Linked DNA regions of Homo sapiens: region 1 is linked to region 2. Evidence: fine-mapped expression QTL. A gene starts in region 2. The other region holds a variant in brackets. All regions are shown on one strand. Distances are between the middles of the regions. Region 1 has its middle 51 kb from the start of GPR12. Region 2 holds the start of GPR12 (G protein-coupled receptor 12).

The links.
Region 1: its variant is fine-mapped to the expression of GPR12 in neural progenitor cells (Aygun 2021, PIP 0.95).

The regions. Positions count from the first base shown.
Region 1 is chr13:26,803,361-26,819,331 of GRCh38, reverse strand. No RefSeq gene overlaps it. Among named protein-coding and RNA genes, the nearest start is that of GPR12, 51 kb to the right of the region's middle. The variant C/GACAC (reference allele first, on the strand shown) is at 7,538.
Region 2 is chr13:26,755,970-26,771,940 of GRCh38, reverse strand. It overlaps GPR12 (G protein-coupled receptor 12), which reads left to right and starts at 11,155. Exons shown (of 2, transcript NM_005288.4): 1 at 11,155-11,362; 2 at 12,099-15,971. The coding sequence starts at 12,114. The coding sequence ends at 13,118.

The DNA.
Region 1 (15,971 bases), 47 kb before region 2:
ATGGTGTTGCAAGCGCTTAGTACACAGAGGGAGCTTCTGCATGCTGTCTCGCTCCTGCATTGTCACAGCACACTGGGGCTCAGCAGACAGGAGGCTATTTATGGATTCACAAGTTAAGAAGTATGTGTCTGTTGGAACAGGAAGAGTCCCAACTCCCTATTGACACCTTCCAAATGGCAGCAGAGTAACCCTCAAATTGCAAGCTGTCTCTAGGCTCAGCATCCAATTTCCAGGACTCATTGACAGACAGAGGACCCTGTCACATTTATCCCTATTGAAATATTCCTGCCTTAGTGAGGGATGCCTCTCGGTCCAGACGATAGGCCCTTGCTCAGACCTCAGCATATTTGGCAGTGGACAAATTCATCTGCAGACTGAAAGTTGAATTGTGTTGAAATTCAGGACAAATCTCAAAGCAGATTTATAAAGCTTAAATTAGCATTTAAAAGCTACAAACAAAACACTGAGTCCAAATAAACTAAGTTAAAAAAGTCTTAATCTTTTCAACTCAGTGATATATATATGTATATGTATGTGTGTGTGTTTGTGTGTGTGTGTATATATATATATATATATATATATATATATAGAGAGAGAGAGAGAGAGAGAGAGAGAGAGTGAGAGAGGAGAGAGAGAGAGAGAAAGAGAGAATAAAACTCACTCTGTTGCCCAGGCTGGAGTGGTACCATCATGGCTCATTGCAGCCTCCACCTCCCAGGCTCAGGTGATCCTCCCGCCTCAGGCTCTTGAGTAGCTGGGACCACAGATGTGTGCCACTATGCCTGGCTAATTTTTGTATTTTTTGTAGACATGGGTTTTCACCATGTTGCCCAGGCTGGTCTTGAACTCCTGGGCTCAAGCAATCTACCAGCCTCAGCCTCCCAAAGTGCTGGAATTACAGGCATGAGCTACTGCACCCAGCTGACAGTATATTTTAAAAATCATTTCTATGTCTTCTCTATTCAATTGGCAGGTCAACAATGTAGCGTCATTAACATCAACAGGTGGAATCCAGCCCCTGTACTAGTGTAGGACAGGTGCGCTGGATATCCTGTCTTTAAGCCCAGGAGGACTAGATTGGATTGCATCTTTAAGCATCTTTCTTGCTGCAGAAAGGGAAGTGGATAGGGGAAAGTTAGGGGAGGTGGGGAGATAAATTAGGTGGCCCTTAAAGGAGCCCAGATGTCCTAATGTCAGACAATGGTTGTGGGGTTGAGAGAAGTGGTTAGATTCAAAGGTATTTGGGAAGTAGACACATCTGCCCATCACAGCCTCCCTGGTTTCTCAGCCTTGCCCTGATTGTGGTTCTGATATTCCCTGGCACTGAGCTGCTCACCTGGAGGGTTCTTACGCCTCTGGTTCCCTGAGTTTGCCTCCTCTTTGGCAGTTTCTTGCCCTGAGCCCCAGCCCTGCCTCCCCAATCTGCAAAGTCACGACAGGAACAGATGCATTTGTTTGTGTAAGCCCAAGACACTTTTTTTTAAAAGTGCTTGCTATGCTCCAGGATTGGGCTAGGCTCTTGAATGTGTTTTCTTGTCGAATCCTCCCAATAATTGTAGAAAATCTTTATCATTCCCATTTTACCAACTAGAAACAGAAGGCTCAACTTCCTGAATAAGTTCACACAGTTACAGAGTGACGTTAGACAGGAGACAGATGTGTCTAACTTGAAAATCCATGCTTTTCCCAACACATGGCCAGGTATTACATTTAACTCTATTATTAAGAGACTATATTATATCATTGCCTGCCAGTGAATGATTATAAATTTAGGTAACCTTGAGCAGAGAGGTGCTGTCTTGATTCTCAAGCAAGACATAAACATTGCTACAACGTGGCATCAGCAGACCTAATAATGAAGACATTTCTTTAAATGTAAAACAATATGCTGAGAGAGATACCATGAACCGTCTCTATGTCACCCCCCCAGCCCTCACTATTTTTTTTTCCTATTAGCTCATTACTGCTTGTTTTGAAACCAGCGGAAAGCTGACACGGCACCAATTTTGTTCTGCAATTTTAACATGTGGTTGATTGTTTCACTGCATTTTAACTTTCTGTCTAGCTCAAGAAAAATGTGGTTAAAAAAATACTGGAACTGTTTTTGGACACTATAAAAATGTTGCCATTTAATCATAAAACTGTGAGCTCCTTGGGGGCAGCAATGGATGTTTTTATCCACCACTGTGTACCCAGCTTGTGGCACATGGCTCGGGCTCCGGAATGCGTGTCAGATGACACTGAACTGAAGGAATTCTTCACGATCACCCAGTGCAGCAGCCCAGGCCTACAGCAAGACTGCATTTGATCCTTCACTGCCTTTAAAAAATCTCACTGTGCCCTGCAGCCAGCATCATGGAGAAGCAGCCCCAAGACCCCCTGAAAAGTTAGTTCACCTTTCTCCTGAACCGTTTACCCTGACCCATGTCGCTCACCGACCTGCGATTTTCTATTGGGTCTCCCACCTTTTGACCGATCCCCCAATTAGCCTCCCAAAAAATGGACTTTGTTAAGGGTTGAATTGTGCTCCACTGCAACTTCATGTGATGAAGTCCTAACCCCAGTGCCTCAGCACGGGACCTTATTTGAAAGTAGGGTCGTTATATGTAATTAGTCAAGATGATGTCACACTGGAATAGGGTGGTCCCCAATCCAGAATGACTGTGTCCTTGTGAAAAGAACACCAGGTGAAGAACAGACACACAGAGCGCTGCATAAAGATTGGGGTTCTGCTGCCACAAACCAAGGAATTCCTGAAAGCCAGGAGAGAAGCCTGGAACAGGTCCTTCGCCAGTGCCCTCAGAGGTTGCATAACCCTGTGGACACCTTGATCGTGGACTTGGCTGCCAGAACAGTGAGACAGGACATTTCTGTTGTTTCAGCTGCTCCATTTGTGGCATTTTGTTGCGGCAGCCCCAGCCAGCTAGCACAGCTTGCTGACCGGGCCTTGCACTTCGCGCCCATCTTGCTGGCCACCCTCACTTTCGTCCCAGCCCTTCTGCCTCTGGCTACTCTGAGTGATCAGCTCACCTGGCCAGGCTGCCACACCCAGATGGTGTCCTGTCCCAGCAGCACTGACATAGAAATATAACAGAGCTGTTGTCCCACTGACAGAAATATAACAGAGCTGTTGTCCAGTTGCTACTTCTGTGTTTGATACCCGAGTGACCATTCCCCTCAGAGGTAACTTAGGGTGAGCAGGGGGTTGGGGTGTGGCTCCTCAGGGAGCATCTAGGGACCCCCCTTCCTGTGCTCCACCACTTGGAGTCCACTGGCTTTAATAATGGGGATCCATTATTAAACTCAGAGAAAAATGACTGACCCCAGTAGAAGCCTACAGCTTGTGACTGTGTTTATGGATCCACCTGGCATCCACACCTTCCCTTCCTTTTCTGACCCCGATTAGACTGCACAGCCCTCGACAGGCAGGAGCTGAGAGGAGATGCAGGAAGACCCTTTCTCCTGGGACACTTTGCTGCACGATAAGTTCACCAGGATTGACGTGCTCTTCCCTAGGCCTGTGATGACGAATGCTGCAGCCAAGAAAGACAGACATGCTGCAAGCATTCAGAAAATAGAGTGTCTCATTCTCTTCCAGCTCTGTGCTGCTGTTATTGTTGTTTAATCAACAACCACAGTTGTAAATCTGTGCCCCTGCAGCCCTGCAGTGCCCTCTCTGAGAAAGCCTCAAGACCTTGCTCCCAGTGGGAGTGCAAGACACGAACCAGTGCTCATGAATTCTTGATGAAAGACCAAAGGCCATGACCTAGTGGTCATCTTCTGATGGGCATTATTAGGAGGCTAAGAAAGAGGAGTAGCTGGTAAAGATGTACCTGACTTGTTAGCAGATTGTTTTTTGAAAGTGGAGAATTATTAGTTAGATAAGAAAGCACCAGAGCCAGACTCAATGCTGACTTTCATTCTGTGAGTGCTCCGGACACCCCCATCTGCAGGGTTCCACTTGGATGGTGCTGAAGGAACCCCGTGTGCCCTGCCCAGCAAGTGGACAGAGGAAAGGATGCATCTGACCCTTCACCACAACACCTCCACATCATCTCCAGGAAGAGAACACAAAACCCCAGGAAGCAGCCAAAGCAGCTTGGAGAATACAAGGATAAGAATGTAAGTAAAGATTGCAATTCACCTGAGAGGTGTGCAGCTGTGCTGAAATCAGTTACAACGAATGAAATCACAAGCAGGTGGGTGCCCACGGGCCTGACCACCAACCACCCAGCATATGCCCAGAGTTCTTGGACACAAAGGGTCTCTGCCCTCAGGAAGCTTCAAATGGGGCTGAGAAGATGGGCGTGTACATAGAGAGCAATTGGAGGGCAGGAGAAGACCGAGGGAAGGCGAGAATCCCAGCTGGATCTTCTCTTTGGGTTGGAATTTTAGGGGGCAGTGAGACAGGGAGAAAGGAAACTCCCACGGGAGCAGGGCCCCGGCCTCACGAGCCCCAGGAGCAGAGAGAAGCAGCCAGCAGGGTGCCTGGGTGTGGAGGTGAAAAGACGTGCACTTTGGCATCAACTAGACTCGCATGACCCTGGGCAGGTGACTTCACCTCACTATGCCCTGCAGTTTTCTGCGGTAAAAAGCAGGATAGTATCTACCTGTGGAAGCTTGATCTAATAACTAAAACAAAATCATATATGAACAGGGCCTAGAACATAATAGGCCCTCAACCAAGAATAGCTACTTATTTTTAGCAGAGACAGTGTTTCACCATGATGGCCAGGCTGGTCTCAAACTCCTGACCTCAAGTGATCCATCCCCCTCAGCCTCCCAAAGTGCTTGGATAACAGGCATGAGCCACTGCACCTGGCATACTAAAAATACAAAAATTAGCCAGGTGTGGTGGTGTGCACCTGTAATCCCAGCTACTAGGGAGGCTGAGGCACAAGAATCGCTTGAACCTGGGAGGCAGAAGTTGCAGTGAGTCGAGATCGTGCCATTGCACTCCAGCCTGGGTGACAAGAGCAAAACTCCGTTTAAAAAAAAAAGAAAAAAAGAAAAAGAATAGCTATTTATAAGAGAAGCTTAAAAAGCTTAAACTCTGCTTATCTGACAGACAATATGGGGGTGGTCTCTGTCTAAATGCCCTGCCCCACCGCCCCCTGAACTTGCACACCACCTGTACTTTCTAGAAGTGTGGCTTCAAGGAAATTCGCCAGGCAGAGGCCCGAGCATCCCCACAAGGATTAGATCACAGATGACACGGAGCAGGGCTTTCTGGGGCCCAATGCCTGCATCACACACTACAGAATAAAAGTTATTGCAGAGAGAGAGAGAGAGTGACGAATGGTCAAATCTCCTACCTGATTATTAGGTAAAGTGAAATTTAGAGAGGAAAGAGTTTGTAATCAGACGAAGCAGAGAAACTGACCAAGAAAATTGATTATGTCGCGAAATGTTTAACCTTACTGACACAGGGCTAGTTCCCTGCAGAATGCTATAAATCAACAGGGACGTGTGCCGGCTGAGCCGGCGTTGGCAACCTGGATTTGCCCAAGCAGGAGGCAGAGCTGGCTCTTGTGCAAGAAGAAACCTGCTCTTACTGGAGGAGACGGAAGAATGTAGTTCTTTTCCTTAACAGAATGCCAAAGCCCTGTACGTGTTCTATAAGAAAGAAAATCCACAAATTCAAATACCTTCTTGATTTACTTTAAAAAATATATCCTTTATTTATGAATATAATACAATAAGCAAAAATTCTACAGTTTCTTTGGAAATAAAAACCATTTATTAGCCATGACTTTTCCTGACCTGAAATTGCTGACAGCTCTTTGTTGGAAAGTAACATTTCATAAGATGCTGAGTGTGAAAGCATAACAGATGGTAAACAGGTTTCCTTCCAGTCCCAAGACATGACTATTATAAAAGGAATTGTGGAGCTTAATACTGTATTTAAAGCCAATTTTGAAAATTGACTAAGTCGGTTCTGTTTCTTCCATTATTAGTTAGACTTTTTTCCTCTCAAAAATATACTTTTTTTGTGGGCTTATTTCTAATTTTGACATTTGTCAAACTTGCAAATATAGATGAGAAAATAGGTAGCATTTCTAGATGAAGAAGTACAATACCATTAGAAATAAAATCTAAACTGGATCAGGCGTGGTGGCTCACACCTGTAATCTCAGTACTTTGGAAGGCTGAGGCAGGAGGATCACTTGAGGTCAGGAGTTCAAGATCAGCTTGGGCAACACAGCAAGACTGCCATCTCTACAAAAAAATTTTAAAATAATATTTAGCCAGGCATGATGGTGTGAACCTGTAAACCCAGCTACTTAGGAGGCTGAGGTGGGAGGATTGCTTGAGCCCAGGAGTTTAAGGCATCGTGAGCCAGGATCATGCTACTACAATCTAGCCTGGACAACACAGTCAGGCTCTGTCTCTAATAAATAAGTAAACAAATAAAATAAACAACAACAAAAAACTGACAGTTGCTGTAGACAATGAGCACCATGGGCCATTAGCAGGTCCCAGGAATGGGTCCATTTGGCCCCATCATCAAACTTTGGGCCTGTGCATGAGTCACTCAGCTTTACAGGTAAAGCCTCACCTGTAAATGGAGATTAAAATAGTAACACTTGCCTAGTATAATATGTGATCTACGACGTATTATAAACTCCCTACCTTTGTGTTTGTGGTTAGATGTTGTCTAAGAAGACAACTTACCAAGGCCTCACTGACCACGGGACAAGATTGGTTTCAGCTTCAGATCAGGAACTGGGTTTTGTTCAGTCTCTTAGGGCCACCTCCCACCAACCATGCTGAGAAGAACTGGAAGGGAGATCCTTAGAGAAATCACCTCCACGGGGCCCAAGAAGCTGACACCTCCATTTTATGTATTTTTCTTCTCGTAGTATGTCAGTCAATCAGGATTTAGTTGCAGAAGACAGATACCACCCTAGCTATTTCCAGGATATAAGGATTTAATACAAGGATTTACATTCTTACAAAACCTTTGGAAGGTCAGAGAGTCACCGCAATACCTCACCACGGGCTCATAGTTTCTGCTCTTAGAAGATTAATGGAAAGGACTCAGAATGTCTTTCTTTCTTTCTTTGGTACCTGCTCATGCTTGCTAAGACTTGGCTGTAAGTCTCAGGCCACCCCTTGACAGTCCCCTGAATGGTCCCCCTGAACAACCCTTGCTTTGGGACCCAGGACCATTCAGAGATGAAGTACCAGGCATCGAGCAGGAGGAGTGGGGTAATATCTGCACATTATTGCCACTGTATTTGGTCAATATAAGGGGGGGGGGTAAATCCCTTTCTTCATCTTGTCTTTATCTATTGGAGGCTTGCAACGTTCATCCACTTGCAATCAAAGAGAAACAAAGTCAGTTTTTGAGAGTGAAGGCAACCTCCACTTGGCAGCCCCTAGAACACCATACAGCAACCAAAATGGCAAATTCGTGACTCACTGTGAGAAGTAAGCCTGCCAGATGGACTGGAGTGTGCAGCCTGGGAAGAGGGGCCACGGTATTCTTTCCAACAGAGAGTCAGGTGCCACCCTCCGGACAGCACTGGAGACA[C/GACAC]AGCCTTATTCTAGCCTTCCTACCCACCCCCATTGAAGGGTCCCATCAACCATCTGCTCCTAGTCTTTCTTCAGCTATGGCACCATGCCATCAATTAGAATTAGGCTGGCTTTCTCCATTCACTTGAAATCACTTGAGATAATCCTTCTTTTTTGAAACACCTCCCAACACACCAGCTGCCAAAACCATTTCTTGGGATGTGACATTTCTATAAAAGTCTGGTTCCGTCCCTTTGGTATGGATTCTTCCTAATTTTGCTCCCAAGGGGAACCCCCATTTGATGTTGACAGAATGTCTCCTCAGTCCTTCCACCGTGCAGCAGACATTCACTGAGAACTGCCTCCAGCTTTCCCAGCATTCTGCAGTTGATACATGAGAAGGGTAAAGGGCTCAAAGCACACACTTCCTCACAGGCATTCAGAGGCTGCCCTTATGGGCAAAGGTAGAAATGAAGAGTAGAAAATCATGGTAGGAGGAAGGAATGCACTCCCACCAGACTGGGGGAAGGATGCCTGGGGTCTTGGACCAGGGAGAGGAATGGAGGATACCTCTCTCTGGATGCACTGAAGAAGTTTGTGTTGACATAGGAAAGTTGGTTTAAAGACAAGGAGGAGTTGAGATGGAACTAAAGCTGCATTTGGCTTTCCTCTTCATTTATGTCTTATCTGTCTTCTTTGCTTACCTTCTTTATTCCAAGTATTCATTGTTTTGCTTTAGGTCCTGAAACAGATCTTATTTTTTGTCTTTGACTTCAGATATTTATTACCCCAATACTCTACTTATCTGTAGAATATTGGAGTAATAAATCTTAAATGGTTACTTGTCTTTAAATGGTTAAACAGTTCAGAAATTTATTTTCTGTAGAATATTGGGGTAATAAATTTCTGAACTGTTTTTACTCTTACTCCATTAAAAAAATTTTAAATGTACTTCTTTATGTGTGTTTCAATTTTTAAAACTGTCTCAAAACTATTTTGCAAGAAAGTAGGACAACAACGTGTGAAAAAAAAAAAACCAAGTTACCGATGGTTATGTCAGAAGTATCTAAAAGGAGTCAGAGAGGCATGGGAGTTTGACCCCAGCTGTAACCAAACTGTAGGTTAGTTGTTTGCCACCTGCAGAGTCCACTTTTCAAGAGCAAGGTCTGGTATAAAAAAAGTGATTTATTCCAAGGCTAGCTTAGGGGAAGAAATACGGGCATCCTGCCTTAAGTGTATTGCTTCACTTTTGGAGCTGACAACGGGTACTTTTAAAAGGCAGGAAAGGAAGCAATCAAGTGGGGAGTCTTTGTGTTAGCTCTGGTGTCTTATCTACTGGGCAGTTCAGCTGGTGACTGCTGGCACCTTTGTGGGCAGGACTAGGCCAAAAACTCCCCAAATAGGAGGGAGTTCCAAGGCAACCTCCTGGTGGGTGAGAATTCTGTGCTTTGCTCTGTAAATCAACTGCTAACTCTCCTGGAGAGTTCTGCCTTGGTGCACATAATCAGGTGAACTTGTCCTGTAGGGAGTGTCTGGTGAAGGGGAGGTAAAAGGTCATATTTGCATTTCTAAAGGGCCAAGTAGGAAGTCGGGAACAGTGGGAAAGAAGGAAAGAGAAGAGAAGAGAAAATTAAAAAAATAATAATAACTCATTCTCTTTTTCTTAGAAAAAATGGGAGTACTCAGTTACATAGCTACATACACACCCGGTGAAATCTGACCTGTTAGGCTGGGCCAGATATCATAAAAGCAGCCACATTGGACTTTAGCTGCTTCTACTAGGCTTGACCATCAACCTCCTTGGGAGAAAACTACATGAAACTAAATTGATCAACTAAAGATATCCTAAACTGTTAATCAGCCATTATCAATCATGAACTGTGCTAAAACCGTCCAGTGTATAAACTCACTCTAGCTCCCTTACCAGCCCTTACAGGACCATTAATTATTTGCTAGATCTGTGTCTCTCAATATGCAATTCCTAAGACTGATTAAAATGCCTTTTCCATTATTTGCTGCTCTGCAGAGTTTTATTTCTTATTAGGTGACAAATGTATAAATGGCAAATAGCTAAATATTTATTTGATGGCTTTTTACACATATACTCTTCTACTGCAGTATGGCATTGGTAAAAAAGCTGCAGTGATTTCTGCTAGGGGTGCTAGTAGGCTATATTATTTTATATCATTATATCACATAATGTATCACATTTATGCTTTAATTCATGCATTTATCCATTCACTCTACAGAAATGTATATTAAGCATCTACTCTGTGCTAGCACCATCCTAGGTGTGAGGGATACAAACATGAACATTACATCTGTGATGTTGTGATTTATTTTATATATTTGTATATTTATATATTTGTATCCTGTATATTTATATATTTATTGTGTGTGTGTGTTTGTGTGTGTGTGTGTGTGTGTTTATATAAATATGGTCTTCATCTCTACTTGGCTCCTGGAACCTCTGGAATCTCCAAAGGGATACGTATCTGTATTCTAATGATTGACCTTTGGCTGGGGGCTCCTGGATGGCCTCAGGATGGGATCAGTTGCCAGGGGAACCAACCATGTTATTAGAGGGTTGGGACTTTAAGTTTACCCCAACCTCTGGGAAGGAAGAGGGACTGAAGGTTGAGTTGATCACCAATGGGCAATGATATAGTCAATCATGCCTACATAATGAGCCTCCATAAAAGCCCAAAAGGACAGGGTTCCAGGAGCTTCTGAATATCTGAACGTGGAGGTGACACACCCAGAGAGGAAAAGGAAATCTCTGCGTCTTTCCCACATGCCTTGCCCCATATGTCTCTTTCATCTGGCTGTTCATCTGTATCCTTTCTAATATGTTTCGTAATAAACCAGTACATGTAGGTGAAGTATTTCCCTGAGTTCTGTGAACTACTGTAGCAAATTAATCGCACCTAAGGAGGAGGTCATGCAAACCTGCAATTTATAGTCACTCTGTCAGAAGCACAGAACACAACCTGGGGCTTGCAAGTGACATCTGAAGTGGGGAGTCTTGTGGGACTGAGCCCTCAACCTGTGGAATCCAACGCTGTATCCTAGTAGATAGTGTTAGAATTGAATTGAATTGAAATGGATTGAATTAAAGGATGCCCAGCTGCTGTGCATGGACAAATTGACCGCGTGCTGCATGGGGAAGTGCCCCATACATCTGGGGTCAGCAGTGTTGTGTTGAGAGTAGGAAGAACACTTTGGTTTGTTTTTTTCCTATATCTCTTACAACATTTTTCATGTTTTTAAGAATTCACTGTTTTGATTAATGTTTCTTGGAATGTAGTCCCTGGATGCATCAGCATCCCTTGAAAACTTGTTAGAAATGCAAATTCTTGGTCCTTACCTCAGACCTACTGAATCAGAAACTCTGAGGGTGGAAAGGAGATGGCAGGAATTTGTGTTTGAATAAACACTCCAGGTGATTCTAATGCATGCTGGAGTTTTAGAACTACTGTTCTAGGGGAAAATAAAAAGGGAAAACACAATTCTCTGTGATAAATGTCAAACTAGAGCTGTACTCCAGGTGCTATGGGGACCCAGTAGAAATCACCAGGGAAAGGCAGGGAATGCATCACAGAAGAGATGACATATTAATCGATTTGGAAGATGACTGGGACTTTGCCAGGGAAACAAGATAGGGAAGGGTATTGTAGGCAGAGGAAAGGCAAGAATATGTGAAACAGTCTGAGTGCAGTGACTCACACCAGTAATCCCAGCACTTTGGGAGACTGAAGTGGGCAGATCACCTATGGTCAGGAGTTCGAGACCAGACTGGCCAACATGGTGAAACCTCATCTCTACTAAAAACACAAAAATTAGCTAGTCGTGGTGGCACACGCCTGTAGTCCCAGCTGCTCAGGAGGCTGAGGCAGGAGAATCGCTTGAACCTGGGAAGCGGAGATTGCAGTGAGCCAAGATTGAACCACTACACAATCTGGGTGAAGAGCAAGACTCTGTCTAAAAAAAAAAAAAAAGAATATGTGAAAGAGGAGCATGTGTGTTTGAGTAACTATTGGTAGTCCGTGTAGTGAGGGTTTTAAAAACAGGATACTCAAAATGGAATGGGGTTGACTGAGACTGAGTTCTCAGTTGAAGGGGAAAAGCGGAGTCCATATCATAAACCTGTCTCACTGATTTGACCTGAATTTCTCTCCCTCTTTGTTTCCTTGGTAGTGTCTTGTGAAAGTTGATATCACTGTTGTCAACGAAAAGAGTCAAACTCTGAAAAATATTTGAAGAGATGTATTCTGAGCCAAATGTGAGTGACACTAGCCTGTCACTAATATGAGTGACTCAGTCCTTGGGAGGCCCTGAGAACATGTGCCCAAGGTGGTTGGGGCACAGCTTTGTTTTATATATTTTAGGGAAACATGAGACATTAATCAAATATATTTAAGATATACATCGGTTCAGTCCAGACAGGTGGGACAACTCAAGGGGCAGGGTGGGTGGGCTTCCAGATTATAGGTAGATTTAAAAATTTTCTGATTGATTGGCAGTTGGTTGAAAGAGTTATTATCTATAGAAAGAAAAGTCTAGGTAACAATAAGAGGTTGTAGAAACCAAAGCTTTACCATGCAGATGAAGACTCCAGAGAGAATAGATTGTACATGTTTCATATCAGACTTAAGGTCTGTGTTGATGTTAATGCTGGTTGACTTTTCCTGAATTCCAAAAGGGAGGAGGGCATGATGAGGCATGTCCAACACCTCCCTCCTTGTCATGGCCCAAACCAGTCTTTCAGATTAAACTTGGAGGGCACTTGCCTAGAAGAGAAAGTCCATTCAAATGACTGTGGCAGGGTGGGGGGCTTCAAGTTTTATTTTTGGTTTGCCCTCTCTAACAACATATATATCTTTATCTAAGTTTGGTAGTACCAGTGGTATCCTACATTACCTTTTCTCTTAGAATGCCTTGATATGCACCTTAGGAATGCACTTGTAGGAGTATGTCATGACTAGGCAGTTAGACAGGTACATGGATCCTTTCTAGCTTCCCCATATTTGCAGTAATTTTGTGTCTGCTTCATTTTGATATAAGAATGTTGGGTATTAATTAATGACCCTGAGCATGTCTGTATCCTAATCAATTCATCTCGGTTTATTAGCTAGAACTGTTTGTTTTGTTTCAGTGGTTGCTCTAGGATTTGCAATAAATATCTTCCATTTATCACAGTCTACCTTCAAATAATGTTATACCATTTTTTGTATAGTTGAAGAACTTTTTAACAGTATGCTTCCATATCCCTCTCCTGGCCTTTGTGCTATGATTGACATACACTTTAATTCTACATATGCTATATATCCCTAAATACATGACTAATTATTACTTTGCTTGAAACAGTCAACTATTTTTTAATCAATTAAAAAGATATTTGATGTCCGGGAGGGAGGTGGGGGGTCAGCCCCCGCCCGGCCAGCCACCCCGTCCGGGAGGGAGGTGGGGGTCAGCCCCCGCCTGGCCAGCCGCCCCGTCCGGGAGGGAGGTGGGGGGCGCCTCCGCCTGGCCAGCCGCCCCATCCGGGAGGTGCGGGGCGCCTCTGCCCGGCTGCCCCTTCTGGGAAGTGTGGAGCCCCTCTGTCCGGCCACCACCCCGTCTGGGAGGTGTACGCAACAGCTCATTGAGAACGGGCCATGATGACAATGGCGGTTTAGTGGAATAGAAAAGGGGGAAAGGTGGGGAAAAGATTGAGAAATCGGATGGTTGCTGTTTGTGTAGAAAGAAGTAGACATGGGAGACTTTTCATTTTGTTCTGTACTAAGAAAAATTCTTCTGCCTTGGGATCCTGCTGATCTATGACCTTACCCCCAACCCTGTGCTCTCTGAAACATGTGCTGTGTCCACTCAGGGTTAAATGGATTAAGGGCGGTGCAAGATGTGCTTTGTTAAACAGATGCTTGAAGGCAGCATGCTGGTTAAGAGTCATCACCACTCCCTAATCTCAAGTACCTAGGGACACAAACGCTGCAGAAGGCCGCAGGGTCCTCTGCCTAGGAAAACCAGAGACCTTTGTTCACTTGTTTATCTGCTGACCTTCCCTCCACTATTGTCCTATGACTCTGCCAAATCCCCCTCTGCGAGAAACACCCAAGAATGATCAATAAAAAAAAAAAAAAAAAAAAAAAAAAATTAAAGTAGAACAACTTAGTTGTACATGGTTACAAGAAAATTTAATAGAAATAAATTTAAGAAATAAATTTAAATTAAAAAAAATAAAATAAAAAGATATTTGAAAAAGTGAAGGGAAAATGTATTTTCCACATACCCACATTTTTGTCATTTTCACTGCTCAACATTCTTTTGTGCAACATCCAATTCCCATCCAGCAGCATTTCTCTTCTACCCCCCCCCAAAAAAAACACCAAAAACTTCCTTTAACATTCCTCATAATGCTAGTCTTCTGGTAATTAATTCTCTCAATTTCTAGTTGTCTGAAAAAGTCTTTATTTTGCCTTCATTTTTTGAAGTTTTTTTTTTGACTATAGATTTTATATTAATAGCTTTCTCTTTCAGTATTTTAATAATGTGATGGAATGGTCTTCTGATTTGCATAGTTTCTTATGAGAAATTTGCAGTCCTTATTTCCCTTTGTGTTAATGTCTTTTTTCTGCTGCTTTAAAGATTTTCACTCTATCATTTGTTTTGAGCAATTTGACTATGATGTGCTTTGGTGTAATTTGTAAGATATTTTTTGTGCTTGGGGTGTGTTGAGATTTTTGTATCTATGGGTTTATAGTTTTCATCAAATTTGGACTTTTTTTGGCCATTTCTTCAAATATATTTTTCTGTCTCCCTTGCTCTGCTTTTTCCCCCATCAGAGCTCTAATTATACATCTGTTAGATTGCTTGTTTGATATTAGCTCACAGCTCATTGGTGCTTTTCTCAATTTTTTACAATCTTTTCCATTTCTGTTTCCTTTTAAATGTTTCTACTGTTGTATCTTCAAGTTAGTTCATTGGTCTTTTCTTTTGCAATGTTTAATCTGCTGTTATTCTCATCAACTGAATTTTTCATTTAAGATATAATATTTTTTATCCCTCAGAATTAGATTGGGGGCTTTTATGTTCCATGTTGTTCATCATGTTTATGCTTTCCTTTATCTTCTTGAAGATAAGGAGTATGTTCATAATAGCTGCTTTAACATCCCTGTGTGCTACTTCTACCATTTGTATCTTTTTAAAAATCTATTTAGGCCAGGTGCAGTGGCTCACACCTGTAATCCCAGCACTTTGGGAGGCCGAGGTGGGTGGATCACCTGAGGTCAGGAATTTGAGACCAGCCTGACCAACATGGAGAAAACTGGTCTCCACTAAAAACACAAAATTAGCTTGGCATGGTGGCTTGTGCCTGTAATCCCAGCTACTCAGGAGGCTGAGGCAGGAGAATCACTTGAACCCAGGAGGCTGAAGTTGCAGTAAGCCGAGATTGCACCATTGCACTCCAGCCTGGGCAACAAGAGTGAAACTCCATCTCAAAAAAAAAATCTACTTAGATTATTAATTTTTTTCTCCTAGTGATAGGTTATATTGCCTGCTTCTTTACATTCCTGGTAATTTTTAACTGGATGCTGAGCAGTGTAAATTTTATGCTTTTGGTTGCTGGATTCTATTGTATTCCTTTGTATATTGTTAGGTTTTGTTCTGAGCAGCAATTTAATCCTTCCAAGGCTTGCTTTTATTTGAGGCAGATCTAGGGCTAATGTGGTCCCATTACTGAGGCTACCACCTCTGAAACCTCTGCTCAATACTGCTTGTGTTATGAGGTCTTTCCACCCTAGTGGGTGGCAGCACAAATCATTCCCAGCCCTGTGTGATCTCCAGGGACTGTTCTGCCTGCTCCTTTCTGGTTGCTCTTTTCCTGGCCTCAGGGAGTTTCCTTTTACGCACACACAGATTTGTTCTCATCCGTAATCTCAAGGGGACCCCTCTGCAGATCTCTGGAGCTCTCTCTTTCTCTCTGTGAAGCTCCCTCCTCCCCAGTATTTTACCCTGGAAATTCCAACCACTCTGACCTCCCTGAACTCTGAATTCTTTCTCCTCCACTCAGCCAAACCACCAGCCCTATCTAGACTCCCTGTCCCTGAGCTTCAGCCTGGAAACTCTCTCCATGCAGTAAACTGAGGGAATTGTAGAGTTTGCCTCATTTACTTCCCAATGAATGAATGAAAGCTCTTTTGTCATACACATTGCCCAGTTTTCTAGTTGTTTAAGGCTAGAGGGAATCCTGTAACTCCGTCATGGTCAGATGATATGGAAGTTTCCATGCCCTTATTCAGATGTGGCTTCCAAGGACCACAGATCAAGAAGCCGAGGGGAGAAGAATGAGACAACTACACAAGAACCTAGGAACAAATATCGACGTGTAATGCCTTCACTTTCTTGTGGAGGGTCCTCTCAGTTTATTATCAGACCTAGGCTGCTGTGGTTATAGA
Region 2 (15,971 bases):
ACCAGGCTCGTGCTGCCGCTGTCTTAGGCCAACCTCTCAACAGTCGATTTTCCTAGCTCCCTATTCCAATTTCATTGACCGATTCATCAAAAATAAGGCCCTTCTATCTGCCAGGCAGTGTTCTAGGGCCTTGGAGTTACAGTCACATACCAAATAGACAAACATCCCAGCCTTTGTCAAGCTTGTATCCTGGTGGAAAAGTGGAGAGGAGACAACACGAGAAAGAAATAAAATAGCGCATACATCAATGGTGATAAGTGCTAAAGAGAAAAATAAAGCTGCAAAGAGGACTCATGTGTGTTGGGGTATGCAAGTTAGACAAGGTGGCTGAGGCAGGACCCACTGAAAGTGGGAAGTTTGAGGAAAGACCCAGGGGAGGCAGGAGCCAGTCGTGAGACACGCAGGGGAAGAGCCTTCCGGGTGGAGCAACAACCAGGGTGCTGAGAGGAAAAGGGACAGGAGGGGTAGAGGTGGAGGAGCAGGAGGCCCAGGTGACCAGGAAGGGCAGGGGATTTCAGCTTCACTTTCAGGGAGACAGGATCTCATTGGAGAGTTTTGGCCAAGGGAAAACATTATCTGACTGAGGAGCATTAAGCAGCTGGAGGAAGCCAGCAGGGGAGGGGAGCTCTTGGGGTTACCCAGGTGAGCAGTGACACTCATTTGGACCAAGATGGTTGCAGTGGATGAGGTGGGATTGTGGGGCTATTTTTTTTTCATTTTAAATATTTTTTATGTGATCACTTTGTGGTTGATTCATTATTGGAATTTATTTTCTACAGTGTTCCTCTACTAGTTATTTTTAAAATTGACTTTATTTTTTAGAGCAGTTTTAGGTTCATAGAAAAATTGAGCAGAAAGTACAGAGAGTTCCCATATAACCGCCCCCCCACACCCCCCACCCCCACCCACACACATAGCCTCCCCCATTATCCACATCCTTCATAGGGTGGTGTGTTTTTTACAACTGATGAACTTACGTTGACACGTCGTCATCACCCAAAGTCCGTAGTTGACATTAGGGTTTACTCTTGGTTTTGTACATTCTGTGGGTTTGGACTAGTGTATAATCACATGGACTTACCATTGTAATACCATACAGAATAGTTTCACTGCCCTGAAATCCTCTGTGCTCCACCTATTCTTCCCTCCCTCCACCCTAACCCCAGGCAACCACTGATCTTTACCTTAGAGTAACTGTCTCCACTGCCTTTTCCAGAATGTTCCTAGGGTTGGAACTGTACAGGATGTAGCCTGTTCAGATTGGTTTATTTTACTCAGCAATGTGCATTTAAGTTTCTTCTGTGTCTTTTCATGGCTTGACAGTTTATTTCTTTTTAGTGTTGAATAATATTCCACTGTCTGAATGGACCACAGTTTGTTTATCCAGTCACCTACTGAAGGACATCTTGGTTGCTCCCACGTTTTGGCGAATTTGGATTCTGGATGTATTTTGAGGGGAGAGTTGACAGGATTTCCTGACAGCTTGGATGTTTTGTGAGCAGTGACTCCAAGGAGAATGCCAAGTACTTGGCCAGTACAGCAGAAAGAAAGGGATTCACGTGGGTCTTCACTTGCACAGGGAGACAGGAGATAATGCACTAGAGATAGTGACAAGAACAGTCATCACAATTGTTTACTGAGCCTTAGCTTTGTGCCGGGCTGGGATGAGTATACTGTGTGCCTTAGCCCATATAATGCAGCACTAGCCCTAGGCAGTAAGTGCTGTTAATATTCTCATTTTACAAATGAGAGAACTGAAGCGAGTTGTTTACTTGCTCAAGGCCACATAGGTCTGCTCATATCTGGCTCCCAAGACAGTAAATATTTATTATATAATAATTGGGTTAATGTGAATCTTCCCTTCAAACATAAGCCACTCATAATGTGCTGACATAAATGACGTCTTTGAGTGTGTAATGTTGAAGGTGAGGGCCTAAACCAAGAGAAATGAATGTCGCCTCCTGAGGCTTCTTGGGAGGCAGTTGGCCAGCCATTTCCCCCAGCAACAACATCCCAACATGCTTTTGGCGGCATGAGTATTTTCTAATTCCCATAAAGGGTTGAGTTTGTTGCGCAGGGCTCAGCACACATTAGGTGCTCCATAAACACTGGCTATCGATTCAGAGAGGTGAGGAATGCTCATGAGTTCATAAGAAAACAACTGCTTATAATCTGCAATTTTGCCTGTGCATTTTCCCTATTGATTTGACAAAAAGTATTAACTGTTTTCTATGATCCCTTTGAGTGGATACAAAAGGTGCATCATCACAGCCATCAGTGGTTCTCAAGAGCCATTCCCCGGACTAATCTGAGCCATGGCAGTTTTCACCCATATGGGGGTAATGAGAATAATCAGAACAATACAGTGAGTTTTTACAAAACAAGTTGTGTTTAACGTAAGCACTCTCCTTTTGTGTGAGATATGTCTGTGTGTGTGTGTGTGTGCGCGCTAAAAAGGTCTTTACTGTGAAATGATAATGAAAGTAGCTAGAAGTGTGCTCATTTAAGTGAGTGTGTTCAGCAAAATATAAATTTGGCAACTCCATGTTGGTCTCTCCTTTTTGTACTTGCTGCTGTTGGTGAAATTTACCAATGCATGAAATCCAAACATCAAGGTACCACTGGTCTTACATGATCATTGTAAACTCAGTTATGTGCAAGCCTCAAGTGTAGCATGTAGAATCAAATGTAGAATGATGAAAAGTTGGGATAGATGGGTCATCTTTATTACCAACCAAAATATGTGCTAATCACTTAGCCACATATGACCCTGGCCTGGGTAGGCAACATCTGGAGACAGAACAGAGAACTAACAATTCTTCACTGTGAGCAAGACCATGGTAGAGCTCTTCTCATCACACATTATCACACTCTGGGTACATACCTTGCAGAACTTTGGGCGTAAATATAGTGTCCCCAACCTCTGTGTGTGGCTAAAGGAGTTGAGTAGAAGTGAAGAGGAGGTGCGTCCTTCACAAGCCAGGGCAGGGCCTTGCACCCACACCCTGGGACCTTGCCATTCCTTCCTCTCCCATTTCATTCAGCAACATTTCAAGCCAGTATTTCAAGAGCTACAGAATGTGGACATGCTGAACCATCATGTTTTGGTTAAAATTTATTGATTATAATTGGCCGCCTAAGTCTCCTAATATAGTAAAAGAAAATTTAGAAGCAAAGTAGCACATCAGCAAAATACTCTACTTCCCTGCTTCTAGCCACCCTTGGACTATCCTTCCATTTTCTCTTTTCAAGAAGGCACATCCAGCAGGAGGGCAATAGAATCTAAAAATCCCATCAGAAGAAAAGGCTGTGGCTTTGCTCACAGTACACATTTCCTTCAAACCACACAGCATAGTACATCAGGTACCATTAAATGTAGGTCACAAGAAAAGAGAGAGATTGCAAACACATGATTCACAGTGCATTAAGTGATAGATCTCCCAGGATTGCTCCTTTGCAGAGAAAGCATGTGTTGTCAAGCTGGCCTGCAGACGTTTAACTCTTCAACTCAAGTATAAAGCATTTTGGTTGCACAAACAGTGCTCCCAAGTCATTAGTGATTCACAAAATCAATACCATACCTGATCACTGGCTCCTCTCCTCTAGTTCTTGCCCAGACACAGCGAGGGTGTCAAGACCTGAGAAGATAACTTCCTAGCATCCCTGGCCACAGTGCATTCCAACCCTGAGCTGGCAGTGCACTACCGATCTGAGCGACACTGCCCAAATCAGGGTTAATAGTCTTTATTACAAGGCCAGGCAAGAACAATCTCTTCTTTTTACAACCTGATTGAAACTCCAGGTGAACACTCCCTTTTTACTCCCAAACAATAGTGGCCCAGGCTACTATTTTTGGAAGAAATGTGTACGGTGAGCAAAGTTCCAGCCTTTCCTTCAGATGAGATTTTTAAATTCTGTTGCCCTCCTGCTGATGTGTCTTCTTGAAAAGGGAAAATAGAAGAATAGTCCGAGGGTAGCTGGAAGCAGGGAAGCAAAGTATTTTGCTGATGCCCTTGCTACTTTGCTTCTAAGTTTTCTTTTACTATATTGGCCAATTATTCATAATTGTCCAAACTTGGAAACAACCAAGGTATCCTTCAGGAGACAAAAGGATAAAGAAACTCCACTGGCTTGATAGTTAAAAATTAGATGCCTTTAAACTGTCTTCCAGTGCTTTCAAGAAGTCCCCAAACAGTTATCTCCAGATGCCCAGAAACCAGTCCATGAGTTCAGCCTCTCTTCTCATTGCACCTTTGGAAATGCTGGTCAACACCTCCCTGCTGGCCTTGGCCTTCAGGGCACTGGTGCCCATCTCCTGGTGCTCTGATGCGTCTGATATTCAGGCTAAGAGAGGGTCTCAGGATTCCACCAAGAGGCACAGTCAACAGCTTCTCCCCATGCTGTTGCAAATGCCTGTGTCCAGCCTTACCCGAGCATCCCTGAATGGTCCAGCCGGCTTTCAGCTGTCATCTTTTGCCCATGACCTCGATGAATCTGCCATGACAGCTGTCAGTCAAAGTTGGTGCAAGGAATCAGCCAGGGATCAGTCATCCTCCCCTTTGGATGTAGGGCCCAGGCCTAGAGCAGCCAGCAAAAGGCCTTTGAGAATATTTGCAATGACATCAACAGGAAAGAACTCCAGAAGCAGATTCCTGAGGTTTTACTGAGGTCCTATTAGATTATAAACAGGTTTCAAAATTGAAATGATAATGGAGTCCTAGAGTAGACTTGTGTAGGACAAGCTCCTGTCTTTCTAAAAGAGATGCAAAGCTGGGTCTTCAACCTCTTACCTGAGAAGAGACATTGGATGGATGTAGGATTTCCATAAGCCCATTTTAAAGCTTACTATAAGTGGCACTTGCTCTCTAGGTGGTGTAGTCCAGTGGCTCAGGAAGCAGATCCTGGCACCTAACTGCCTGGCTTTGAGGGCAGGTATAGAACCTCACTGTGTGTCACCTCCCTCAGTCATACATAAGGTAATAGAGGTGCTCTACCTTGTAGGGTTGTTGGGAGGATTAAGTTAGAATGTACTTGGAAGGCTCCTAACACAGTGCCTGGCACACAGTGAGTATTAATAAATACTGGATATCCTGTTGTTGGCAACTAGAGGCCTGGCCCTGCTGGGCATGAGTGAGGCGGTTAAAGTTTGCAAGGACCTGTGGGCAGCCCAGGTCTCCTGGGCTCATGACGAAGGCCTACATTCCTTTCCCATTGCTGCCCTCACACATTACCTCAAACTGTGTGGCTTAAAACAACACAAATTATTCAGCAACAATGGACTTTTGTATTTACCCAAATGAGTTGAAAACTTATATCCACACAAAAACCTGCACACAGATGTGGATAGCACTTTATTCATAATTGGCCAAACTTGGAAACAACCAAGATGTCCTTCAGTAGGTGAATGGATAAAGAAATCCAGACATTGGAATATTACTCAGCAATAAAAATACATGAGCTATCGAGCTGCGAAAAGACATGGAAAACCTTTAAATGCATATTGCTATGTTCAAGAAGGCAATATGAAAAGACTACGTACTGTATCATTCCAATTCTATGACATTCTGGAAAGGGCAAATCTATGGAGACGGTAAAAAGTTTAGTCGGGGATTAGGGAGAGGGAGGGATGAATAGGCAAGCACGGAGAATTTTAGGGCAGGGAAACTATTCTGTATGTCACTATGATGGTGGATACACGTCACTGCAGATTTGTCAAAACCCATAGAATAGACAACACCAGGTGTGAACCCTTATGCAAACTATGGATTTTAGTTAATAATAATGTATCAGTTTTAAAAACCCACTCATTTGTTCTGGGGGTCAGAAGTCTAAGGTTGGCCCACAGACCAGCATTCCTTCTTGAAGTCCAGGGAGGAATCCCCTTGATCTTCCCAGTTTCCAGAGCCTGCCAACACCCTGTGGCTCCCGGCCCCTGCTCTGTCCTCACAGCAGGCAGAGCAACATCTTCACATCTCTGTCTTTCTCCCTCTGCTTCTGCCCTCACATCTCTTACTACTGACCCTAATCCTCCTGCCTCCGCCTTGGAAAGACCTTGGTGATTATACTCAGGACCCACCCGGATCCAGAATGTCCTCCTACCTCAAGACGTCTAATCACTTCTGCAAAGCCCATTTTAACAAAAGTAACGGTCCCAGGTTCCTGGATTTAGGCCCTAGATATTTTTGGGGGTCATTATCCAGCCTGCCAGAAGGATCGAGAGAGTTGGAGGAGTCGGGTTAAGGGTTGGGGGCGGGGGAAGATGCTAGGAGAAGAGAGAGGGAGCAGAGAGGGAGCAGAATGGTCCCTGTCTGCTGTCCACACCATAAAGCACAGACAGCAGACTGACGGGTAGCTCAAAATCCAAAGAAAATGAAAAACTATTGCTCCATGCGCTTGTGTGAATAAAACATTTCAGAAAGTAACACCTCATTACTCTGCCTCCTCCTCTCAAAAAAAATCCCAACTAAATTTATTAAAATATATATTAACAAAAAGTTTACAGCAGCTTTCTCTGTAAGAGTACATGACATATTACACTTTAATTTTACTTGTAGGCTCCAAATTTTCTGCAATAAGTATTATTAGTTTATAGTCAGAAAAAAGATATTTCTTAAAAAAAAAAACACCAGAATATATGTAGAAATGAAGTAATGTTAGTGTTGACAACGGAGCTCTCTTTTCGCACACAGAACCGCAGACTAAATATTATCTTTGTGTAGTATGTCCCTCCCGTCTTTCTTTCTTTCTTTGATATTTCCATGAACTACCTTTGCCCTCTGTTAAAATGGAAGTTTAGAGTGAATTTTAAAAGGGGAAGGAGGGATGTGTTGTGATTTTTCATAGTCTCCTCCCTCTCCTTAAATAGCAACATGGTATTATTTTAATGGAGAACTAATTATTAAAATGTGCTTTTGAGCCAGCGTTTATCACATGGCATGTACAAGAAAGTTTGTCATGGTTTTAGTCACAATAGCCAAAACCAGAAAACAACCCAATGTGGATCGATAAGAAATAGATGGAAAAATGGCAGCATATTTGTTGTGGTCTGAATGTTTACCCCCAAAATTTCTATGTTGAAACTTAATCCCCAGTGTAGTAGCATTGAGAACCGGGGTTTGGGGAGGTGATTAGGTCTTGAGAGCTCTGCCCTCTTGAATAGGATGAGTGCCCGTAGGAGCTTGTTTGCTCCTTCTGCCAGTAAGGACACAGGAAGAAGGTGCCATCTGTAAGGAATGAGCCCTCACCAGACACTGAATCTGCTGGCACCATAATCTTGAACTTCCCAGTCTCCAGAACTGTGAGCAGTAAATTTCTTTGGCTTACAAATCACCCAGTCTGATGTATTTTGTTATAGCAGCCTGAACGAACTAACACAATAGTCCTACGATAGAATTCCATACAGCAATGAAAAAGATTAAACTACTGCTCCTTGCACCAAATGAATATGTCTCATTAACATAATGTTGAGTGAAAGAAGCCAGACATGAAAGTGTACATACTGTATGATTCCATTCATATAGAGTTCAAAAACAGACAAACCTAATCTGTTATATTAGAATTCAGAATAGTGGTTTCTTTTCAGAGGATAATTATTGGGAGTGGGCAAGAGGAAGGCTTTGGGGTACTGGTAATGTTCTATTTCTCAAGATGGATAGTGGGTACATAGATATATCTATCTGATATATCTTCATGGTACTGTATACTTGTGAAATATGCACTTGTCTATATGTAGGTTATACAGTTATAAAATTTACTGTCAGATGAAGAGATCAATAAAATCAAACTTTAATTTGGGATTATAGTGTATTCTTAGGTGTGTTATAGACCCTTGGCTGGACAGACTAAAGCATGGTCAATCTATGGTTCAGATTACTGCACCAATTAATCAGATCTATGGAAACTGGGTAATAATCATTAACATAAGCAAGAAAGAAGCTGACTGGTAAAATTTCAATACAGACACCATGTGCTGTGCAGTACTGGCTCAGTTTATGACTTGCTCCAGCCAGTAATCTGTGACAGTCTCATGATTTACAAATACAGTTACAAGAAGGGGCTAATAAATGTGCCCTCAGGGTTTAAGTTGGCAAAGATGCCATGTGTGATTAAGACAGGCACCGAGCCTTTCTCACATAAAACAGTCATCGTTACTATAGGTTGTGAAAATGCCAGATCATGCTTGAAGGTTTACAACTTCTTGCTGAAGTTATTTTAAAAAGTGACAAAAAAGGTAAGTGATGAAAAGGCAATAAATGTCACACTTCTGAGGGCATCTGCGGCAGTGTCCTGTCATGGGCGGTGAATACATCGAGAAGACAGCTTTGCAGACAGCTACTCTATGGCCCTCGTTACTGAGGCTGTGCAAAACGTCCCCATTGGCTCACCCAGTTCCAAGCTGTGGTGAATCCCGACCTCCAGACCTGGAGTTGGTGTGCCTGGTGTCCCAACTCACTGTTCCTCTCAGAAATGCCCATTTGGTGAAGTTCAGAGGGATGCCCATCACAAGACACCACATGAGATCCAGGCCTGGCCAACTGATCCACTCTTTCCCTTTAGCTGCCATTGTTGGTTGTGAGCAGGGGGCGCAGCCCAGGCTGGGGCAGAGTTCTCCATGGGAATTCCACTCACAAGTTAAGAATACAGTCTTAGAATGCAAGCCCAGGGCTGCCTGAGGCCACTTTCCATGACTGCCTGGAAGAAACTTGTCTGGGGTAGAGAAGTTTGAGGCACACAGACACAGAGAAGCAAAGACAAGCAGAAATAAATCAGGGCAGGGCTGACTGCCAGCCACCTGTTTCCTGTAGCTTCTCCTTCTTTTATGTGAACCACTCCAGATCTTTCCTAGTCATGCCAGACAACAAAACGCCTTTTTTTCTTAAACTAGTTTGAATTGGATTTCTGCTCCCTGGCAACAAAAGTCCTAACAAATAAACCAATGAACATAGAATCCGGAGTACAGGGAAGTTACAAGTAATCATTCCGGGGGGAGTGGGGACAGAACTGTGAACACAGTTGCTGTTACCAACAGGGGAGCTGAGTGTCCACATCAGTGTTAGCAGCTAACTCCTGGGCTCTCCCCAGTGACGGTATCCAAGCCCCAGGTGTAACTTGCCTCAGTTTCCTCCTTTGACTCCTCCCAGGTTTTACAAATTTTTTTTACAAAAATCTGTATACCTCTGCCATTCACCTCAATACTTTTTTCTCTCCTCCAACACTCAGCTCTTTTTTAAAAAAAATTCTCAAACACATTAACGACTGAATTAAAAAGTCCCACCCCTTTAAGCTCCGTGAAGTCAGGGCCATAAACCATGTCAGTGTTATTGGCTAGAATAGTGTCTGGCTAGCCCTATGCATTCGCTTTCCCTAAACTGCAATGCCAATGTGAGGTGCCCAAAATTTTGCCATGTAGGTTGAGCTATATTATGCCAAAACTACTACATGTTTGTTAAGTGACTGTTCATTTTTCATCGCTTCATTCTAAAATTCTTTGATGCATCATGTAGAATTGAGAAGAAGATTACATCCCTTCATGACAGCATTTGCTGCCTGGCATTATTGTTGATTTGTGTGTGTGTCACTACCAGACTGGAGACCGTGTCTTACTGAATTTCTATGCCCAGCCCTTAGCCCGGTTCTTGGGACACACACGAGTCTGATGCCTCCCCACCATGAACAAGCCACTCTGAAAACTCCATAGAACCTTGCTTCTCAAAGTGTGATCTGTCAACCAGCAGCAGCAGCAGCATCACTGGGGAAGAGGCTTGCAAATGCAGAAGGTAGGCCCACCCCAAGAACTACTGAGCAGAATCTGTCAAGGTAAAAAGTTCAGACTATTCTGGAGGTAGCAGGAGGTCTTGGACATCATGGAATAGATGTGCCAAATCGAGGAGGTTGGGAAAGGGAGAGGCAGGTGGGTACCAGAAATGCAGGTGAGAGGGGATGAGGGCCTCAACCAGGGAGCTGAGGATGATGAGAAGTGGCATGCAGGGAGAGCTGGAGTGACCTTGCAGAGCCAGAAACTGATTGATGGAAGAAGGGAAGGAGAAGCGGGAAGAAAGTCAAGGGTGATTGAGGCTCCGAATCTGTTGGGCTGGGGTAGAGAAGACGTGAGCACCAGGGGAAGGCAGGCTGGTCAGCTGATGATGCCCCTGTAGGGTCCCTTGCCTGCAGACCATCTCCATTCATACAAGAGCCCCTGGGCAAGTGGAAGAAAAGCAGTGGGAAAACCTTCACCTCTGACAGGGCAAGACAAGACTATCACACTTTTTCCTTATCCCATCTTTAAACTGGAGGATCATCTTGGAACTTAAGATCTATGAGGTGCTCTGGTTTTTATATCCAGAGGAGGCATGGGATCATAAAAGCAGACAGCTATCAGGTTCTTCATCTTAGAATCCATTGATGTGGCAAAATGAAAAAATAAATTAATAGTGCCACTTCAGTATCTAAATGAATTGGGGTTTGGCCAATGTCTGCAGGAAGCTTCTACAAGAACTCAGTAAATGATTTCCATTTGAAAACACAGCTCAAAGAGCGCTTAATAAGTGCAATTTGGTGATGATAATGATGATCCACAGAGCAGCAGCATCTATCCAGTCAAGCAAATGTTCCTGGGGAACAGTGATAATGAACCAGGTCCAGGACCATGGGCAATTCTAAAAGAGCGTGCGGGGCATTTTGTTGTTTTAAAGATCTGCTTCCCTAACCTGTCCACCCCGCATCCCTGCTGCTGATCGTGAATATCATCCTAAGCAATTCTTTTGGCCCTGAATGTAGTGGTTTAGGTAAAGGCGTGGAAAAGCCAGGACTGTAGAGACTTGGAGCTCCCCAGGGAAACCACAGGAACGAAATAGGTCACAGGGCTCCAGGCAGCGCTCCCCTGCCCCGCCCGGTGCAAGCCCGGGGCCGCCGGCTGGGGTGGGGCGCGCAGCGCGGCAGGCAGGCAGGGCTACCATGCAGTTCTCAGCCTCCTGGCTCCTTCGCCCCTCGCCCCGCGCCCCTGGGCCGCCCTCGCCTGCCCGCACCCTAGAGCAGCCCTGACCCGTGGGGGCGCGCGGCCTCGCGGGGATCCCGCGGGCGGGCGGGCGGCCGGGCGCGCGCGGGGCGGGGGCGGCGCGCGCGCGGGGAGCGTGTGGGCCGGGCGGGCGCGGCGGGGAAAGCTGGGCGCGCGAGCCGAGGCTGCTGCTCACCTGCAGCCGCGCCGCTCACCTGCCGCGGAGTGCGCGCCCCGCGCCCTCCCGGCCCGCTCCGGAGCCCGGCCGCCCCCCCCTTGCCACAGCGGGCAACTGCGCCGACATGCGACACGAGTAGCCCACGCGCTTCGGAAGCACCGGAGGAGCCCCCTCGGCCTGGGCGAGCCAAGGTGACCCCCTCGATGACCCCCCCGCCCCCGCGGGCCGCCTGTCCCCGCACCCTGTCTGTCCCCCTCGCGTCCGACTCCCGTCCCCGCCGCCAGGGAATCGGCAGCAGTGCATGGGCATCTGTCTGTCTGTCTGTCTCGGTACTTCCATTGCACACACCTCCCTCTCGTGGCCCTCCCGACTGCCCCGTGCGCACGGGGGGAGTCTGGAGCCCCTCTTTGTTCCGGTCGGGGGTGCGTTTGAGGATGTGCACGCGCGCGGGGGATGCGTTTGGAGGGTGGGAGTTCGATGGAAATAGGCGATTTAAATATTCCATCGAGGATGGCGGCCCCTGGCTCGAGACCTGCCGCTGCCGCGTGGTTTTCTCGGCAGCAGCCCAGATGTCAAACAGTTGTTCGTTTTCAGCATGCAAGATGTGATTTTCCAATGTGCATTCCCAGCGCTGTTGCAAACAGACCGCCGCGAGTCCGTGTGTGCCTGCCTCGCTCACGCTGGTGTTTTGAAGTCCTACCCTGTGTTTTCCCCAATGCCAAACGGCATTTTTGTTGTGGGGTTTAAACCACAGAGACTTTGGCTTTTGTTTCATTTCCCAACAGTTCCTCATTCCCGAAGCTTGTGGCATTTGGTACTGGTATCTGAGCAGGGGCTGGCTTTCTGTTTGTCTGTGTGTTTTTTGCATGATCTTGGATTGTCACCCTGCTGTATTTAAACATTAAAAAGCCTGTCTTTTCGTTGAAGAGGACAGGGGTTAAAATGAATGAAGACCTGAAGGTCAATTTAAGCGGGCTGCCTCGGGATTATTTAGATGCCGCTGCTGCGGAGAACATCTCGGCTGCTGTCTCCTCCCGGGTTCCTGCCGTAGAGCCAGAGCCTGAGCTCGTAGTCAACCCCTGGGACATTGTCTTGTGTACCTCGGGAACCCTCATCTCCTGTGAAAATGCCATTGTGGTCCTTATCATCTTCCACAACCCCAGCCTGCGAGCACCCATGTTCCTGCTAATAGGCAGCCTGGCTCTTGCAGACCTGCTGGCCGGCATTGGACTCATCACCAATTTTGTTTTTGCCTACCTGCTTCAGTCAGAAGCCACCAAGCTGGTCACGATCGGCCTCATTGTCGCCTCTTTCTCTGCCTCTGTCTGCAGCTTGCTGGCTATCACTGTTGACCGCTACCTCTCACTGTACTACGCTCTGACGTACCATTCGGAGAGGACGGTCACGTTTACCTATGTCATGCTCGTCATGCTCTGGGGGACCTCCATCTGCCTGGGGCTGCTGCCCGTCATGGGCTGGAACTGCCTCCGAGACGAGTCCACCTGCAGCGTGGTCAGACCGCTCACCAAGAACAACGCGGCCATCCTCTCGGTGTCCTTCCTCTTCATGTTTGCGCTCATGCTTCAGCTCTACATCCAGATCTGTAAGATTGTGATGAGGCACGCCCATCAGATAGCCCTGCAGCACCACTTCCTGGCCACGTCGCACTATGTGACCACCCGGAAAGGGGTCTCCACCCTGGCTATCATCCTGGGGACGTTTGCTGCTTGCTGGATGCCTTTCACCCTCTATTCCTTGATAGCGGATTACACCTACCCCTCCATCTATACCTACGCCACCCTCCTGCCCGCCACCTACAATTCCATCATCAACCCTGTCATATATGCTTTCAGAAACCAAGAGATCCAGAAAGCGCTCTGTCTCATTTGCTGCGGCTGCATCCCGTCCAGTCTCGCCCAGAGAGCGCGCTCGCCCAGTGATGTGTAGCACCCTTGCACCCAGGAGGACTCTGCATTTACCAAGCACTTCCACTGCCTGGCCAAGGTTTGAGATGCTTCCCTTGAATTCCTTGCATTGGATTCCCTCTCAAGCCACAGGAGCACTTAGCATTCGTGAAACAATGACATCGTTCAGATGAGTTAAGTGATTGAAGTGAAAATAATGTTACCAGTGTTTTCACCATTAAAAAAAATTGTTGAGCTCTCCACTCAACATTATTTTGTTTTGCTTGGGGGCAAGGGTTTCCTTTTATACTTTGTTTGGAGGGCTGACTGGGGGTAGGAAAGGAAGGGATATGATACGCCCATGATGTTATTAGAAGTAAATGAGTTTCAGAGTTTTTACCTGGACTTTAAAATAAATTTGAGTGATTGAGGAAAATTGAGAAAGACTTACTTTTTCCAGACTATTTTTTTTTTTTACATGATGGTAGATTTTTTAATGCTGCATGTATGTAACAGAATATGACCCCTTTCAATCCAATACAAATAGTTTACATAATTGTGTTTGGAAGGGACCTGATTTTGCTAACATGAACTCAGTAATGTCACCGACACTGAAACCGTGAACCCATTCTTATCCATTCTTTCTTTCCTTTCGGCAATTACTGTTCACGAGAATTCCTTCGGTATTTCTATAAATGTTGCAACTCCTTCTGCATGGTCGACTGTGTTAGCTAGACCACTTGTTTCAAATGTTGCCATGTCAATCTAGATTCCAACGGGTCATTTTTCAATATAGTTTTCCAATATGTACTTTCTAAAATGAATCCTGAAGTAGGTTTTGATCTTCATATGAAGTAGGATTGATTAGATCCACCATTGTAGTTTCTTAAGCTATTGTCTGATTGTTTTCAGAAAACAAAAGGAAAAAATATTAGCAATTGAGAGTAGATTAAATTTATTTTAATATATTCTGAAAAAAACTAATGTGACATTATCATGAAATGAAAAAAATCACCTTTCCTCTCTCTCTGAGAATATACTAATGGTTATTCTTGATTGAGATAATTAGAATAAATATTATAGGCCAAGTTTTTCTGGTTCATACTGTCTGTGGTGCATAATGCATTTGAAACAGGCAGTCCCCTATTTTAATGATTAGGTTTGTTTGTCAGTGCACAGCGTCCATCTATGACTGTGACATATACCAGCTATATCCTGTAAGGTCATAAACAGAATGACCATTGGCTGTTGATGAAAAGTTAAGTTTGAAATCTTTTAACTCCTTTTCACCAAAAACCAATTTATACACAATAAAAATCACATTGCCTGTTTTCAGAGAACAAGAATGTAGTCAGGAAATTGCAAAGAAGAATTCACTTTAAACACATTGTAAAATCGATGTGTCTCAGGTTTCTTTTCTGTTCATGCAGACAAATGTAGACGCAGGTACCTTCCCTCCATTTGCAATGGATTTATAGTTATGTCTATATAATCAGTGGAAAAAATTCTTGGCAGCACATTAATTGAGCCCATTCAGATGGCAGCAAAAGCAGTATTTCAGGGTCATTGGGGAATCATTTGTAATAAATTAACCTCATCGGTTTGTCCCAGATGTGATGCCCAGGGTGCTCTCAAGACCATTCTGGGAGCCTGCATGCTGATGCCTTCTCTCCAGAGCATCTTCTAATGTAGCACACGTGTGAAAAAATCCTCTACTTGAATCTGTGTCTCCTCCCTGAGGTTACTTATGGAAGCAGGAGAGGGACTGAAATACTTAAGAAGTGGGAAAGAATTTTCAATACATACCACTGTATGATCAATCTAATAAAACTGATGCCTTTAAAACATTTCTTTTGAACATTTGATGGAGTTAGTAGGTTGAACATGATGAGTCTGTTCGTTTTTAATTAATTAAAATTGAATAGCACCACCATAGGAGACTTGACAAAGGTAAGTTGGTTTTGAGAGGGGCTAGGAAATATCCGTAATGAGGTTTTAAAGGAATAAATGATGATTTTATAAAAATAGTGGCTCCATTTGCATATCTCCAATAGTCAGAATTATAAAGAGAATAATATGTACTTGTTGTGACCACATGTGTGCCAGGCCCCATGCTGCGTGTTTTACTATAATCACAAAACTACTACTTTTATAGGTGAGAAAACTAAGACTAAGAGAGGCGAGGATAAAAAATGTGCCCGAGGCCACAAAGCACAAGGATAGAGTCAGAATTTGAAGCCAGCTTTTCCAAAGTCTAAGTCTTGCTCCTTCCCTGTACCTTGCAAGCTTTCATCCCTCAGTGGATACCAGGGCTGAGGAAACTGATTTGTAACACGTTCCTGTCACAGAGTTTTGGCTCTACATTTAAGACATAAAACTTGGCCTGGCGCAGTGGCTCACGCCTGTAATCCCAGCACTTTGGGGGGCCAAGGCAGGTGGATCACCTGAGGTCAGGAGTTCGAAACCAGCCTGACCAATATGGCAAAACCCTGTCTCTACTAAAAATAAAATTTAGCCGGGCGTGGTGGCGGGTGCCTGTAATCCCAGCTACTCAGGAGGCTGAGGCAGGAGAACTGCTTGAAGACAGGAGGCAGAGGTAGCAGTGAACAAAGATCGCACCACTGCACTCCAGCCTGGGTGACAGAGCAAGACTCCATCTCAAAAAAAAAAGGACATAAAATTTCCTGTTTAAAGTTACACTAGTTACGTGGTTGCTTTTGGCCCATGTTTTTAAAACATATAGTTTCAGCTAAGAGATTTTTCAGTTCAACTAACAACATGCCTTTACCGTTTAAATTGTGAAAAATGTTGGATATTTATGTGGTTTTCTACAAGGTTTCTTTTTTCCTGTGGAGCTAATTATTTTTAAATGTGCACACATCTCAATGTACATATG